Homo sapiens: one gene and its partner. The protein of the gene in region 1 interacts with the protein of each later gene in a pairwise test. Each region holds a gene or a part of one and is shown in the gene's direction. Other genes may lie near its edges.

Region 1 (7,579 bases):
AGTCTTGTGCTGTCACCCAGGCTGGAGTGCAGTGGCACAATCTCGGCTCACTGCAACCTCCGCCTCCCAGGTTCAAGCAATTCTCCTGCCTCGGCCTCCCAAGTAGCTGGGATTACAGGCACCTGCCACCACGCCCAGCTAATTTTTTGTATTTTTAGTAGAGACGGGGTTTCACTATGTTGGCCAGGCTGGTCTCAACCTCCTGACCTCCTGATCTGCCCTCCTTGGCCTCCCAAAGTGCTGGGATTACAGGCATGAGCCACTGCGCCTGGCTGAAATTTTGGCTTTTAAAATCATTTAGGTCTCATCAGGTATCAATTATTTAAAATGTAAAACTTTCCTAAAGATCTTTTGACTCTTTGTGTGATAAAATACCTTGAAAGAATAGTCATAATCTTTATGACAGAGAGATCTTTAAGGTGTATTTGATATGAAGTCACAAAGAGAAAAATCTTTCGAGTCATTGGTTTTGGGAATTATGTCATGAACACTGAATATAAGGATACTTTTAAAATTTAAAACCACCTCCTTTACTGTATGTGTTGATCTTTGACCTGAATTGGAAGGGGGATTTTTAAAATTTCTCTATAATGTTGTTAAAAAGACATAGGGCCTGTGGGTATTGGGCCTTAAATTGAATTTTCCTTATATAGAAAAATGGAAAAAATTGGTTTAGGTGTTAGGTCATAACAAAAAGTAGGCCCTTTTGAAGATTAAATTTATGCCTGCCTTGGCCTTGTTTAAATCCATGCCTGGCCACAAATATTAGTGTTGTGGCTGTCCATCATCTGAGCAATTGCACAGCTGTTTCATTCACTGCCGTGCGGATTCATCTTTATGTCTATGCTGCTTTGAAGAACCTTCTCAGAGGTTAATGATGAGAGGATGTAGCAGTAGGGACAACACCGTGGCAGATGAGGTCTTTTATTACATTCTTTTAATCATGATTTTCAGCATTAGAAACCAAAAGCTTTATAGTCTCCATGTGAAGAATCCCTGGTGAGCCTGTTTGCTGTGATAATATTAGTCATGGGTTACTCAGTCCTTGATTAAAACCTCCTAGCTTTGTTGACTTGCTAGTCACTATTCACCTGCTAGGAAATATAGGACTGAGTTGTCATGGAAGGAAATAATGGTGCTGGGATTTGAATAAATAATTTATGAGATAATTTCAGAGCCTTTGTCTTCTTCATCCCACCATTTATTAAAGAAGACTTTCCAAAGTATACTGCCATGAGATCTAGAATAATTGAGTCATGTTTTGTGAACCACGTTGGAGACAGACTTCTCTGGGAGGCGACAGCTTCTCCAGAGGAGGCCTTTAGCTTTGGAGTGGGACCAGCCTGGGCTTGAATCCAAGGCCTGCTAGGTTGGGCTGTGTGTGTTCCCGGGCTGGTGGTTTAACCTTGCAGGGTGCTGTGGGCATGTAAATCCTCCAGCGCAGCCCTTGGCAGGTAAGAGGTGCTTCATAAGTGTCGTCCCCCTTCTCTTTTCTGTGGAAGCTGTGTGTTCACCTCCCATGGGAAGACATTCCTAGTCCCCTCCCGTGGGCTCCTCCTCCAGTGGGCTCCTCCTCCAGTGCTCCGCAGTGGAGTAGCCAGCGGGGCGTCCCGAAAGAGCATGGTGCATTCATTCCGTGAGTGCCAGCCACACTGCATGTTCCAAATAACACGCCTCTCTCTCTCCTCAGGTGCCTGAGATCATCAGCTCCATCCGTCAGGCGGGGAAGATCGCCCGGCAGGAGGAGCTGCACTGCCCGTCCGAGTTCGACGACACGTTTTCCAAGAAGTTCGAGGTGCTCTTCTGCGGCCGCGTGACGGTGGCGCACAAGAAGGCTCCGCCGGCCCTGATCGACGAGTGCATCGAGAAGTTCAATCACGTCAGCGGCAGCCGGGGGTCCGAGAGCCCCCGCCCCAACCCGCCCCATGCCGCGCCCACAGGGAGCCAGGAGCCTGTGCGCAGGCCCATGCGCAAGTCCTTCTCCCAGCCCGGCCTGCGCTCGCTGGCCTTTAGGAAGGAGCTGCAGGATGGGGGCCTCCGAAGCAGCGGCTTCTTCAGCTCCTTCGAGGAGAGCGACATTGAGAACCACCTCATTAGCGGACACAATATTGTGCAGCCCACAGATATCGAGGAAAATCGAACTATGCTCTTCACGGTAAAATATCACCCAGCTCGTGCACAGCCCCAGTCTGCCATACGCTTTCAAGAGAAAATCTGCTTTATGGAGCGAAGATTCTTAGTCAATTGCTTTTGATTTATGTGTGAATCCATATATTTTCATGCTGAACAATTCTATTCTTAGGATAAGCTCCTTCCTTTAGCCATAAGCCTTTACAGTCATCAGGGAGAAACATGCCCATGTGTAATTTTTATCTCACCCGGTAATTATAAAGACACCTTTTCAGTGTGGAAAGAACAGTGAAAACGTGTAAATGAGACCAGCAGAGAGATTTAAAAAATATATATGAATTTCAGATGATATATTTCAACAGAATCTTTTAGTTGGAAAACACCCTCTCTACTATTAATATTTTTATTTATGAAACATTTACCCTTTGCTAATCAGGAAGAGTGGCTTTGTGAGTGACATTATATTTGAAATTTATACCCAAACTGAAATATTAATTTAGCCAATGGCTTGCTTGCTTTTTTTTTTTTTAGAAAAAAAGTGTTAAATTGACAGCCAAATGCTAGAAAAGGACTGAACATGGGGGGCTGTCCCAGGTGGGTGGGGTTCCTGGTTCCATGCTGATCTGGGCTCTTCTGAATGGGTGTGCCCTCCCTGGGAGTCCCCTGGGTCTGAACGGATGAGATGTGGAGCTGTCCCGGCAGCGAGCCGGTCTCTGACAATGGAAGAGCTAGTTTCTTCCTTGGCCTTCTCTTTGGCTTAATGCTGACTGACGTTCTGTAGAGAACAAAATTATCTTAAATATAAAGTCTCCTTCTTGTGTCTAATTCAGGGCACAGGTGAGATGGCCAGGGGGTAAAAAACCAGCTACCTAGGTTAGTGCAGTGTGGATGTGTGCAGGTTTAAAACCAAGGGGGTGCACCCAAGGGTAAATAGGGCTGATGTTTTCATCTTTTGACCATTGATCTAGTGTACCGAAAAGAGTAGTCAGATTTGTGCTTTAATTTGTGATCTGCATCTTTTAAAAAAACTTCCTTGGTGACATTGAGAAAGCTGCTCCCTGCATTTATTTATAAGTACTGACTGTTTGACTGCTGTGCTAACGTCCCTTGCCACATGCTGGAAATGCAGCCGTGAACAAGACAAGTATGTTCTCTGCCCACATGGAATTTAGATTCCAGTAAGGGAGACAGGCAACTGAGTGCACAAATAATTATCTAATTATAATTGTGGTAAATGCCGTGGAGGAGAAGTACAGCATGCCTGAGAGCATTTCTCAGGGTAATCAGGAAAGGCTTCTTTGAGAAAGTGATTTTCACCTAACACAAGGTTTCATTGTGGCCACCTGGGAAGGTCTTCTGGGCTCACAGAGCAGCAGATGAGAAGGCCCTAAAGGCAGGGATGGTGCCTGGTGCCTGGAGAATCCCAGAGGCCTGACTGCCTCCTTTGCTCAGCATTCTTCCCTCGAGTTGTCACGGTCTTACCTCCTCTTGCTTCCTTTAGGTCTCTGCTGAAATGTTGACATGGAGGAATAATCGTATCAGTAAGACCAATAGCAGCCTCACTTCCTGCTTTTTTGCTTTATTTTTCTCCATGGCATTTTTACCATTTGACACAATTACAAATAAACAAGTAAAAGATTTTATGTCCCACATGCCCCCAAGAAGATAGGCTTCAAGAGGGCATGGATTTTCATTTCTCTGTTCACTGCTGTCGTTGGTAGTGCCTAGAGCACAGCTGTTGGGTGAGAAATAATTCCAGATGGCCGCACTGAAAACAAGGAAGGATGGTGCGTAGAGATGGGGCTGGGACTGGAGGCAGCCCCATGAAAGTTGTTTTCATCAGGCACAACTTTATGGGTCTTGGTCAGGGTTTTGTTTTTTATCCTGAAAGGAGTGGGCAGTCACTGCATGCTATAAAACACAGTGTGAAATATCTTTGGCTACAGAGCCAGGATACTTGGGGGAGGGCAAGAGTAGGATGGGGAGGGGAGTGAAGCTGTTGTAGTAGTCCAGGTGAGAGATAGTGGGGTTGTGGTAAGTGCAGTGGGAGTGGAAGGGACAGACATGCAGAAAGTCAAATTAATGGGATGTACAATCCTTTGGATGCCATGGGGAAGGAGAGGGATCTCAGGAGCCCCACCCAACTTTGGATTCTGACTTGCTCTTTACAACCCAGCCATAGCTAAGTAATAATGCCTTGGAGCCTCTCACCTTATGAGATTTTCAAAGGTTATTTTTAAAAATAAGTAAGGACTATCTTCATTATGTAGGTAAAGACAGTGACTTCTAAAGAGACTAAACATACTCCAAATAGATACTTATTCGTTGTTTACAAATAAGGAGGATATTGTGTTGGCTCCTACTCTAGAGAGAGACACAGTCTAGTTTAGAAAGATGTTGCATGTTAAAAATGAATTAGTTTTTCATCATCCTTGGTCTCCACAGAAGGACAAGAGTAAAAGGCTACCTGCCACTCTCTGCTGGCTGAAATACAGTTCAGAAACAGTAAGTGTGCAAAAACAATTCAGAATGCAAAGTCCTTGCCCCAAACAGAATGCACGTTTCTTGGGCCCCCTCATTGAGAGTATAATTCCCCTTGACTTACACCCCAGTTTCCAACAAGCTTGTGTATCTGATTTGTATTTTACATCAAAGCGTAAAGAGTTTAGAGGAGGAGATGGGTCTGGGAGTTAAGAATGGCAGCGTCAGGATGTGACCACTGACTTCTTGGTCCTGAGGAGAAACTAAAGCTGTAGAAACCAACACACACTGAAACCCAAGAAGCTTAGCGCTCCAGAGACGAGGAGTCTAAAAGGCAGCCTTTCACAGCCTGCAGGGGCGTGTGCACACAGAGTAGGTTGGGTATTGCAACACAGCAGTCTCCTATAATGCATGTCTATTAGCATGTCCCAAGGCAGTAAGAGGATTGTAATTGATGCTCATACTCTAACTTGAAAAGGTCCGGTCACTAGTGTATGTGAATGCCTCACATGTAATATGTACTAAACAAATGGTAGATTCTTTTAACAATAATTTAAAAAGACTTGTCAGTAAAAATCATTCAAAAGTATCTTGGAAGCTTTGAAAGAGTAGATTCTGTTTTCTGGAAGGTTCACTTATGCGGAGACCTCAGTTTTTAGGGGGATGTGTGGATCTTGAGGCCTATTGCTAACTTTTGGATATCTGGTTCTTTCATCTCAAGGAAGATGGCTGTCTTATCTAGGTGAAGGCACTAATAGATGTGTCTTATGACCTGAAATCCAGAGGATAAGAGGGGACCTTTGAAATGATTTCTACGATGATAGAGTCAGAATTTTATAGGAGCTTGTCCCTTTTATTCTTTATTTTCATAGGTCATGAAATGAGAAAGTTTGAAAAGCTAGATTTTTTTGTTTGTCTTTTAAGATTGGCCAGTCTGAAGTTTACCTCATCAGTCCTGACACCAAAAAAATAGCATTGGAGAAAAATTTTAAGGAGATATCCTTTTGCTCTCAGGTAAATGGAGATGGGTTTTTTTATTCAATTGCAATGGAATTTTTAAATGAATTTCTATAATATCTATCATGTAACAAATGCTAAAGGTTACAAGGTGTATGTTTTCTAAGTACTGTACTTGATTTGTGTTTCGCTTTTCTTCTTTGCTTTGGTATGTTAAGGTAAATTATGAATATAATTTTGAAATTAAGAAATTTGCTCTTAGCAACAGTAATGGACAAAATAGATCTACTTTTAATTTTCTCAGTTATTGGTAGTAATAATCCACAGTCATGACTTCCAGATGCACATGTGTGTGTCTTTGTGCATATTACACATATATATTTACACATTTCACACAAATATATCTTTTTATTAGATATATTTCTACTTTACAAAAATTTGTAACTTTTTTGGGTACCAATTGTCAGTATTCTCCCTTCAAATATAGATAGTGCTTATCTTTGACATATATATTTACACATTTCACACAAATATATCTTTTTATTAGATCTATTTCTACTTTACAAAAATTTATAACTTTTTTAGGTACCAATTGTCAGTATTCTCCCTTCAAATATAGATAGTGCTTATCTCAGAGTACAGTGTCTACTTGAAAACTTTTTTCTTGATAATCTTCCAGGTGTTTCATAGAGGGATTTTGGAAGAATCTATCAATTAAGATTAGCTGTGCCAGTTTTACTCAGGATCTTCCTAACAAATATGAGATCACTTAAGGTTATATTTGCTTTTTTTTTTAAACTCTGGATTTTTCATTTTCATAATTGATAAAATATGAAAATGTCAGTGTTGATTTATAATGTGATCTACTTAAATATTCAAAAGGGACTTTTCTGCAAAATGTGAAAATAAAGAATGTTCTTTACAGATTGAATAGGGAACCATTTACAAAGAAAAAGCTTTGCTAAATCATATTTCCTTAAGTGGTAGCCTTATGCTTAACTTGCTACTGGAGAAGATTAATTGAGATGGCAAAGCATGTTAATGATTGCTCATTTATTGGAAAATATTTGGCCTGAAAGTGAGATTACCCATAGAGTTTTTAATCCTGATTTGCTGCTATTTCTGTTGAAATATGAATGTTAAATGTTTACATTTTTGTGTGATAGCTTTATAATTTCCTAAAGAGTGTAGTTTACAAGTTTATATGATTACCTGAACATTAAGCTATCAGCACTCACATCTCTGCATGATGATGCTTTCAGAATACATTGATGTATTAATATTTATGGCAGACGTTTTATCTGTATTAAGGTGCCTCTGATAGCTGATGATTTTAAAACACATTTACATATTAATATTTATTAAAAATAGCTCTTATGATACCATGGTAGAGCCTTGGCCTAATATGTTTAAAAGCTCCTCTACTCTGTGTGCATGTAATTTTTGACTCTTTCTTTATTCCAGTTCACTTCAGTATTTACCTACTTATTTTAGGAATACAAATATATTTTAAATATTTTTTTAACCTTTGGGTGTGTATGTGCTTAGTTGTGTTTCTTCATGAATCTCTGGTCTGCCTTTGATTTTTTGAGTGGTTTTTATTCTTTAATACCTATGTCTCAAACAAAACAACAAACAAATACTAAAATGAGCACTAAAACTTGAATTTTCAGATCTTATTTTTCTTATTGTTGTGGGAGTAATCAAAGGAACATTCTAGTAAACCAACTTTATTTGAGATGTTTTTAGACTTTTTGAAATTTTAAAATATCAGAGAAAATAGTAATTTCCTAGTGTTTTTTAAAATTGTGCTGTGTAGGCCAGGCGCAGTGGTTCACGCCTGTAATCCCAGCACTTTGGGAGGCTGAGGTGAGTGGATTACCTGAGGTCAGGAGTTCGAGACCAACATGGTGAAACACCATATCTACTAAAAATACAAAAATTAGCCGGGTGTGGTGGTGCATGCCTGTAATCCCAGCTACTCAGGAGGCTGAGGCACGAGAATCACTTG
Region 2 (7,066 bases), on another chromosome or scaffold:
TGTTCATAGTACCTGTGTTCACGTGGAGTCCTGGGGTGGCAGGAATTGTCGTCATCCCACTCTCCACTAAACAGATGAGGCTCACAGAAGTGCAGTGACCTCTTCCCAGGGTTGTGCAGCTGTGCAGGCAGGACCTGAACAGCCCTAAGGGGCTTCTACCCCAAGCCCAGGGTGGTGATGGGACAGGGGAGATGAGGCCAGGCCGGCCCATGGTGGAGGCAGAGGCTACAGAAAAGGGAGTATCCTGTGGGCCAGCACCCCAATTCTAACTCTGGGTCTCGGGGCAGAATGGTGGGATGACAAACTGCACGCCAGAGGCAGCTCCAGGTCTTGGGACTCCCTGCCGCCCAGCAAGAGGAAGAAGGCACCTCTGGTTTCTGGTATCCTTTCACCCAAGGTGGCCTAAAAGTGGGCAGGATGTAAGGGTCAACTCCAGACCCAGGGGAGGGGGTTGGAGGGGACATGGAGGACAGTCACACTAGATGCACTCGTGGTTGCTTGGTGTCATGTGAATATGTCCAGGCAAATCCAGCTGTCAGCAGTTTCTTACGGGGTCCTGGGTCTCTCTGGGCTATGTGAACCCTAGGAAAACAGAAACGGGCTGGGCTCCGTGGCTCACATCTACAGTCCCAGCACTTTGGGAGGCCAAGGCGGGTAGATTGCTCGGGCCCAGGAGTTCTTTTCGAGACCAGCTTGGGCAACATGGTGAAACCCATCTCTAGAAAAAATAACAAAAATTAGCCAGGCGTGGTGGTGTGCACCTATAGTCCCAGCTACTCTGAAGGCTGAGGTAAGAGGATTGCTTGAGCCTGAGAGATCAAGGCTGCAGTGAGCCGTGATGGTGCCACTGCACTTGAGCCTGAGTGAGGTTTGGCCTTTGAGGCCTTTCCATCTCCCGGGGTTGTCCGAGCGGGTCCCCAGCTTTCCCTGGGGAGCCTTTGCTCATATCCCACCCTCCTCTTGGAAGTCCTGCCTGTCCCGACTGTCCAGGGCTCATCTCAAACGTTACCTCCTCTGTGAGGCCTCTTCTGGTCTTACCCTGGTGCCTATGGCTTCACTTTCCTGTGTGCTTCTGTGCCCTACCATGGGGTACCCACATCCCAGAGGGCACTGGCTGCCTCCACCCCTTCCTAGGCAGGGCTAGCTTAAGCTTAGTCCAGGGCCTGCTGTGCTTTCATCTGTCCTGGCAGAGCTGAGTCCTCCTGCACCCCTGAGGGTATTCCTGCAGCAGCCAGTCTTAGTCATTATGGCAACCTGGTGCTGGAGAGCAGGCCCAGGCAGGGAGGGAGGAATCTGGAAGGCCATGACTTGAGTGAATGGAAGGTGAAGGCATGGAGACATCAAGTAGGGAGCACTGGGGGAGGGAGAGTTGTCTCTGAAGGGATAAGCCCTGCGTCTGTCTTTGGATCAGGGAAGGGGCCAGGTTAGGGCCAGTGCTGCAGAGTGAGATGGGATGGGCCTCAGCCAGCTGACCTAAGACGAGGTGAGGGTGAGCAAGGGACAGGGAACAACATTTGGTGTCCTCCATAGACTTGGTTCCAGGACGACCCCTGGAACCAGGGGGTTAAGAGGTAGGAGGTGGAACCTGACCTCGGACCCAGGTCCTCAGCTCCCACTCCATGCTGTCCGCTGTACCCCCACTCCTGAATGTCAGGTGGGTGGCCCTGCCCTCGTCACCTGCCACCTCCACTAGGCTTCCTTGACCCCCACCACAGGCCCATACATCGTGTACATGCTTCAAGAGATCGACATCCTGGAGGACTGGACAGCCATCAAAAAGGTGGGGGCCGCTGCTGCCCACGTGACCTGCCCCACCTCAGGGCCCCCCACCCTGGCAGCAGCTCTGCCATCTGCAGGCCTGGGAGTTCTCTGCTCACCAAGGCTTCCCCATCTTCAGCCCAGAGTCCCTGGATCGCAGTTGGCTCACAAGTCCTCTTGCTCAAGGCGGCCCTGGGAAAAGGGATTTCTAGTCTGTGTCAGCCCCTTCCCGTTCTGGGGCAGGTTTTGATGGGGTGGGAGGGTGGCGGGGAGGCGGGAGAGCCGCTGAGCTGGCCAGCAGTCAGGAGCATGGGAGCTCTGCCTGGGTGGGGCCTATGCTCCCGGTCCTGGGGGCACAGCACTGAGGCAACAGCCCACAAGCCACAGAGGTGGGGGGTGGGGCAGGGATTGCCAAGCTGGAGGTGGGCTCTCAGGGGAGCTTTTCTTCTCACCCACCCAGGCTAGGGCAGCTGTGTCCCCTCAGAAGAGAAAATCGGATGGTAAGAACCATGGCTGTTGCATGGCCTTCCCTGCCCCCTTGCCATCACCTTTCCTCAGCTCAGCTTCCAGGAAGGAGCCCAGAGAAAGGCTGTGACTGTGTCAGAATCAGTGGCTCAAGAAAGTTAGGATGGTCTAGATTTGAGGGGCTTGTGGGAGTTTGAGGAGCAGGAACCAGGATGGGGCTGGGGAAGCTCTGGGTTGATGGAGCTCCCACTCAGGAGGGGTCAGGGAGGGCTGTGGAGCTGCCCAGGAGGCCTGTTCTGGGCCAGCCCAAAGCCACTCAGTAAGTGGCTGCCTCCTTCCTTTCAGCTTCCTAACTGGTGACAGTTTTCTTCTTCCCACATATGCACAGGACCTTGACCCTGCTGTTCACAGCCAGGGGGACCCTCAGAGCAGCTGGCACTGCACCCAGGATTCTCGTCTTCCTCCTGCAGACAGGCGGACCCACAGGCCCCTCAGGGTCTGCCCAGCCAGGCTCCTGTGGTGCTGCTGGGCCCTCCCACTCCATCTGGCACTGGCCTGGACTCCTCCTCTGCCCTCCTCGAGGCCTGCACAGCTGTGGCCGTGGAGCTGACCTGACCAGGCAAGGCTGCTGTCTCCATCCCTGAGCCGCCTGCCACCTCCCACTCCTGAAGATCCATCTCTTGGGGCTCCCCTGACAGAGAAGACAGCCGAAGTCAAAGCCACATCCTCTTGCTGATGTTGGATGCAGGCTGTCCGGCCTCAGGGCCAGGGAGCCAGTTTCCACTGTGCGGGAACTCTGAGTCAGACGTGATTATCTGGGGGTCTGTCCACCCTGGCTGGATCTGGAGGCAAGATGCCAGGCCCCCCAGGTGTTCTCAGGGCAGTTCTTGGTGTCTGCTTCTCAGATTCCAAGGACTGGAATTAAAACCTTTCCTGGGACTCTGGCGTGCCCTGTGTGTGTGTGTGATTTACCTTGCAAGAGAATCAGGGCTCCCGTGGGGAGCACCTGAACCAGGCCGACTTCTAGGGTGCCTGCAGATTGCCACTCCTCACACTACCCAGCAGAGGCTAGAGCACTGTGCGTGGGGCCAGGCTGGGGAGGGGGAGGTGGGCGCTGGGCTGCCTGGCGCTGGGCAGAGTCAACATATGGCACCGGGAGAGTGCCTCGGCGGGGAGGGTGGATGCGTGTGCTTGGAGCCTGGGTCATGTCTGCACCTGTCCCAGTTGCCTGGCAGATTGGCAAGGCAGGCTGGCAGAGCCTGCGTGCGTGGGAGGCAGCCGGCAGCACCGCCATGTGCTGACGACCTCACAGCCAGACTCCCCCTGGTTAGCACTGAGTGTCAGAACCACCCCCAGAACCTCAGTTAAGCAAATAGGTTGGTTTCCATGGAGACATGGCATATTTTCTCCATGGCAACCTAAAATCCTAAAACCCAGGTTCAGGAATGAGTCATCTATGGACAGTAGAGGGTGCTCTCCCACAAGGCTGACCTGAGGCCAGGGGCAGATGAGCAACTGACCACAGAGCCAAAGGTGCCCCCAGAGCATGGCTGGGGCCTGTGGGGACTGAGGCCGCTTAACCACTTCCCGCCCACGTGTGCAATGTGAGTAGCTGGTGAGGCTGCAGGAGGCCGTGTGTGGAGGTGGCATCCCCCAGCTGGGGCCCTCAGAGCAGGGCTAGCATGGAGGGGACCCCTGACCCCCAAAGCAGGGTCCAGAACAGAGGAGGCGGGCACTGGCCAGGCAGGGTGGACACACAAGAGTTAACTGGCGGGTGTGACAGGCGGACCGCCCTCAGGAAGTGTTACTCACTGGGGATGTGCGTGCCTTGCCTTGGGACTGGATTCTCTTCCTGAAGCGAAGGAGCTCCCAGCCATGGAAAGCCCTGGAGAGTCAGGCGCGGGCTCTCCTGGAGCCCCCAGCCCGTCCAGCTTCACTACTGGGCACCTGGCGAGAGAAAAGTTAGTGAAGTTGGCAGGGCAGCCAGGTGGGGCAGGGAGGGGCTGCGAGAGGAGGGCCTATCCGGGGATAGAGAAAGTGGGAAACCCGGGAGTGGGGAAGAGGAGAGCAAGGGTCCCAGCCCCTGGCTCCCTGCTCAGATCTGGGTGCCTGCCCCCAGGCCAGCCCAGGACCCACTGTATGACGTGCCCAATGCCAGCGGCGGGCAGGCAGGCGGGCCGCAGCGGCCGGGGCGCGTTGTGAGCCTGCGGGAGCGCCTGCTGCTCACCCGGCCCGTGTGGCTGCAGCTGCAAGCCAACGCAGCGGCCGCACTGCACATGCTGAGGACCGAGCCCCCGGGGGTGAGTCTTGCCCCACACTCCAGGGACTGGCCAGCCAGGGGTGGGAGGGAGAGGGATGGGACGCCAAGGTCCTGAGCTGCCTGAGCCCTATCCACTTGCAGACGTTCCTCGTGCGGAAATCTAACACCCGCCAGTGCCAGGCCCTGTGCATGCGGTTGCCTGAAGCCAGTGGCCCCTCCTTCGTCTCCAGCCACTACATCCTGGAGAGCCCTGGCGGTGAGGGGCTGGCCTGGCGGGAAGGGGCTGGAAGCAGGGAGGTTCCCCAGAGAAGCACCTCACTTCCCTCCTCTCTCAGGCGTCTCCTTGGAGGGCTCGGAGCTCATGTTCCCAGACCTAGTCCAGCTCATCTGTGCCTACTGCCACACCCGGTGAGTCTGCCCGCAGGGTGCCTGGTGTCCACGGGCCCTGCTCCTTGGGACAGCCCATCCTTCCCGCCCTCTTCGGCCCTCACTCCCTTCTGCTCCCCTCTCTGGCCTCAGGGACATCCTTCTCCTCCCGCTGCAGCTCCCCAGAGCCATCCACCACGCAGCCACTCACAAAGAGCTGGAGGCCATCTCCCATCTGGGCATTGGTAAGGGCTTCCTGCCACCCATTGCACAGATGAACAAGCTGAGGCCGAGGGGAAGGCAAGGCTCGCAGCACACCGCCCGAAGCCCCTGCCTTGCCTTGGTTGGGAAACTTCCCCTAACCAGTCCCGGAGGCCCCAGTCGGTTTCTTGTTCCCTAGAGTTCTGGAGCTCCTCCCTCAACATCAAGGCTCAGCGGGGCCCGGCTGGAGGCCCAGTGTTGCCCCAGCTGAAGGCCCGGTCCCCTCAAGAGCTGGACCAGGGCACCGGAGCCGCCTTGTGCTTCTTCAACCCCCTGTTCCCGGGGGACCTAGGGCCCACCAAGCGGGAGAAATTCAAGAGAAGCTTCAAAGTGCGCGTGTCCACAGAGACCTCCAGCCCCCTGTCTCCACCTGCCGTGCCACCTCCCCCCGTCCCCGTGCTGCCAGGGGCAGTCCCCAGCCAGACAGAGCGGCTGCCCCCTTGCCAGCTGCTACGGAGGGAGAGCTCAGTGGGGTACCGCGTGCCAGCAGGCAGTGGCCCTAGCCTTCCGCCTATGCCCTCCCTCCAAGAGGTGGACTGCGGCTCCCCCAGCAGCTCCGAGGAGGAGGGGGTGCCAGGGTCCCGGGGGAGCCCAGCGACCTCACCCCACCTGGGCCGCCGACGACCTCTGCTTCGGTCCATGAGCGCCGCCTTCTGCTCCCTACTGGCACCGGAGCGGCAGGTGGGCCGGGCTGCGGCAGCACTGATGCAGGACCGACACACAGCCGCGGGCCAGCTGGTGCAGGACCTACTGACCCAGGTGCGGGCTGGGCCCGAGCCCCAGGAGCTGCAGGGCATCCGTCAGGCGCTGAGCCGGGCCCGGGCCATGCTGAGTGCGGAGCTGGGCCCTGAGAAGCTGCTGTCGCCTAAGAGGCTGGGTGAGGCTCCGTCTCTCCATAGCTCCAGCACTGCCCCATCCGACCCTCTGCTCCCCTCCACAGCGCCAGCCTGTCTGATTCTGTTCTGCTGCTTTACAAATCCATCTTGTCTTACCACTGTTCGAGAGAGTTCCATCCCCTCTCTCCCCCAACTCTTCCGTCTCACCCAGGCTACCTCCTCCTGCTTTCCTTGCCTCTCCTCCCCGATTCTACCCCTGCTCCCTTCTCCCCTTGCCTCTGCCCCCCATACCCCCAGTCTTCCCCTGACCCCTCCCTGTCCCTCCGGCAGAACATGTCCTGGAGAAGTCATTGCATTGCTCTGTGCTCAAGCCTCTCCGGCCCATCCTGGCAGCCCGCCTGCGGCGCCGGCTTGCCGCAGACGGCTCCCTGGGCCGCCTAGCTGAGGGCCTCCGCCTGGCCCGGGCCCAGGGCCCCGGAGCCTTCGGGTCCCACCTGAGCCTGCCCTCCCCAGTAGAGTTGGAGCAAGTGCGCCAGAAGCTGCTGCAGCTGCTCCGCACCTACTCACCCAGCGCCCAGGTCAAGCGGCTCCTGCAGGCCTGCAAGCTGCTCTACATGGCCCTGAGGACCCAGGAAGGTATGTCCCTGCCACCACCTCACCCTGCCCTGCCCCTTTGAGTCAGAGGCGGGCCCCCCAGCGGCAGGTCCCCAGGACCCTAGAACAGCCCTGCAGGAGAGAATGAGCCCACCCTCCCCTCTTGCAGATGGCGAAACTGAGGCCTAGAGAGGAGCGCATCCTTTCTGAAGCCCCTCAATGGTTGCTAGGGCATGGGGAGGGGTCACTGCCTAAAGCAAGGACTGTACCTGAAGCTTCTTCCTCTCACCATGTCCCCACAGGGGAGGGCGCGGGTGCCGACGAGTTCCTGCCTCTGCTGAGCCTCGTCTTGGCCCACTGTGACCTTCCTGAGCTGCTGCTGGAGGCCGAGTACATGTCGGAGCTGCTGGAGCCCAGCCTGCTTACTGGAGAGGGTGAGGGACCCCCACCCACCTCCCTGTCTGGGTGGGCCCTGAATAAGCAGGGAAGGGGAGAGGGGATGGGGTGCCCCACACCCAGCCTGAGC

What was found. The genes of interacting proteins can lie anywhere in the genome.
Region 2: the proteins of TBC1D1 (region 1) and RIN1 interact in binary tests that used the Homo sapiens proteins (3 or more experiments, as listed by UniProt).

The regions. Positions count from the first base shown.
Region 1 is NC_000004.12:38,012,819-38,020,397, forward strand, and holds part of TBC1D1 (TBC1 domain family member 1), read left to right. Parts: intron 1-1,690; coding exon 1,691-2,155; intron 2,156-4,575; coding exon of another isoform or gene 4,576-4,635; intron 4,636-5,535; coding exon 5,536-5,625; intron 5,626-7,579. UniProt on the Homo sapiens protein: May act as a GTPase-activating protein for Rab family protein(s). May play a role in the cell cycle and differentiation of various tissues.
Region 2 is NC_000011.10:66,333,435-66,340,500, reverse strand, and holds the start of RIN1 (ras and Rab interactor 1), read left to right. Parts: upstream 1-4,066; 5' UTR 4,067-4,098; coding exon 4,099-4,184; exon of another isoform or gene 4,185-4,210; intron 4,211-4,342; coding exon 4,343-4,523; intron 4,524-4,624; coding exon 4,625-4,739; intron 4,740-4,818; coding exon 4,819-4,891; intron 4,892-5,002; coding exon 5,003-5,094; intron 5,095-5,249; coding exon 5,250-5,987; intron 5,988-6,276; coding exon 6,277-6,582; intron 6,583-6,842; coding exon 6,843-6,974; intron 6,975-7,066. Other genes in the region: BRMS1 (breast cancer metastasis-suppressor 1), read left to right, coding at 288-380, 1,716-1,780, 2,612-2,833. UniProt on the Homo sapiens protein: Ras effector protein, which may serve as an inhibitory modulator of neuronal plasticity in aversive memory formation. Can affect Ras signaling at different levels. First, by competing with RAF1 protein for binding to activated Ras.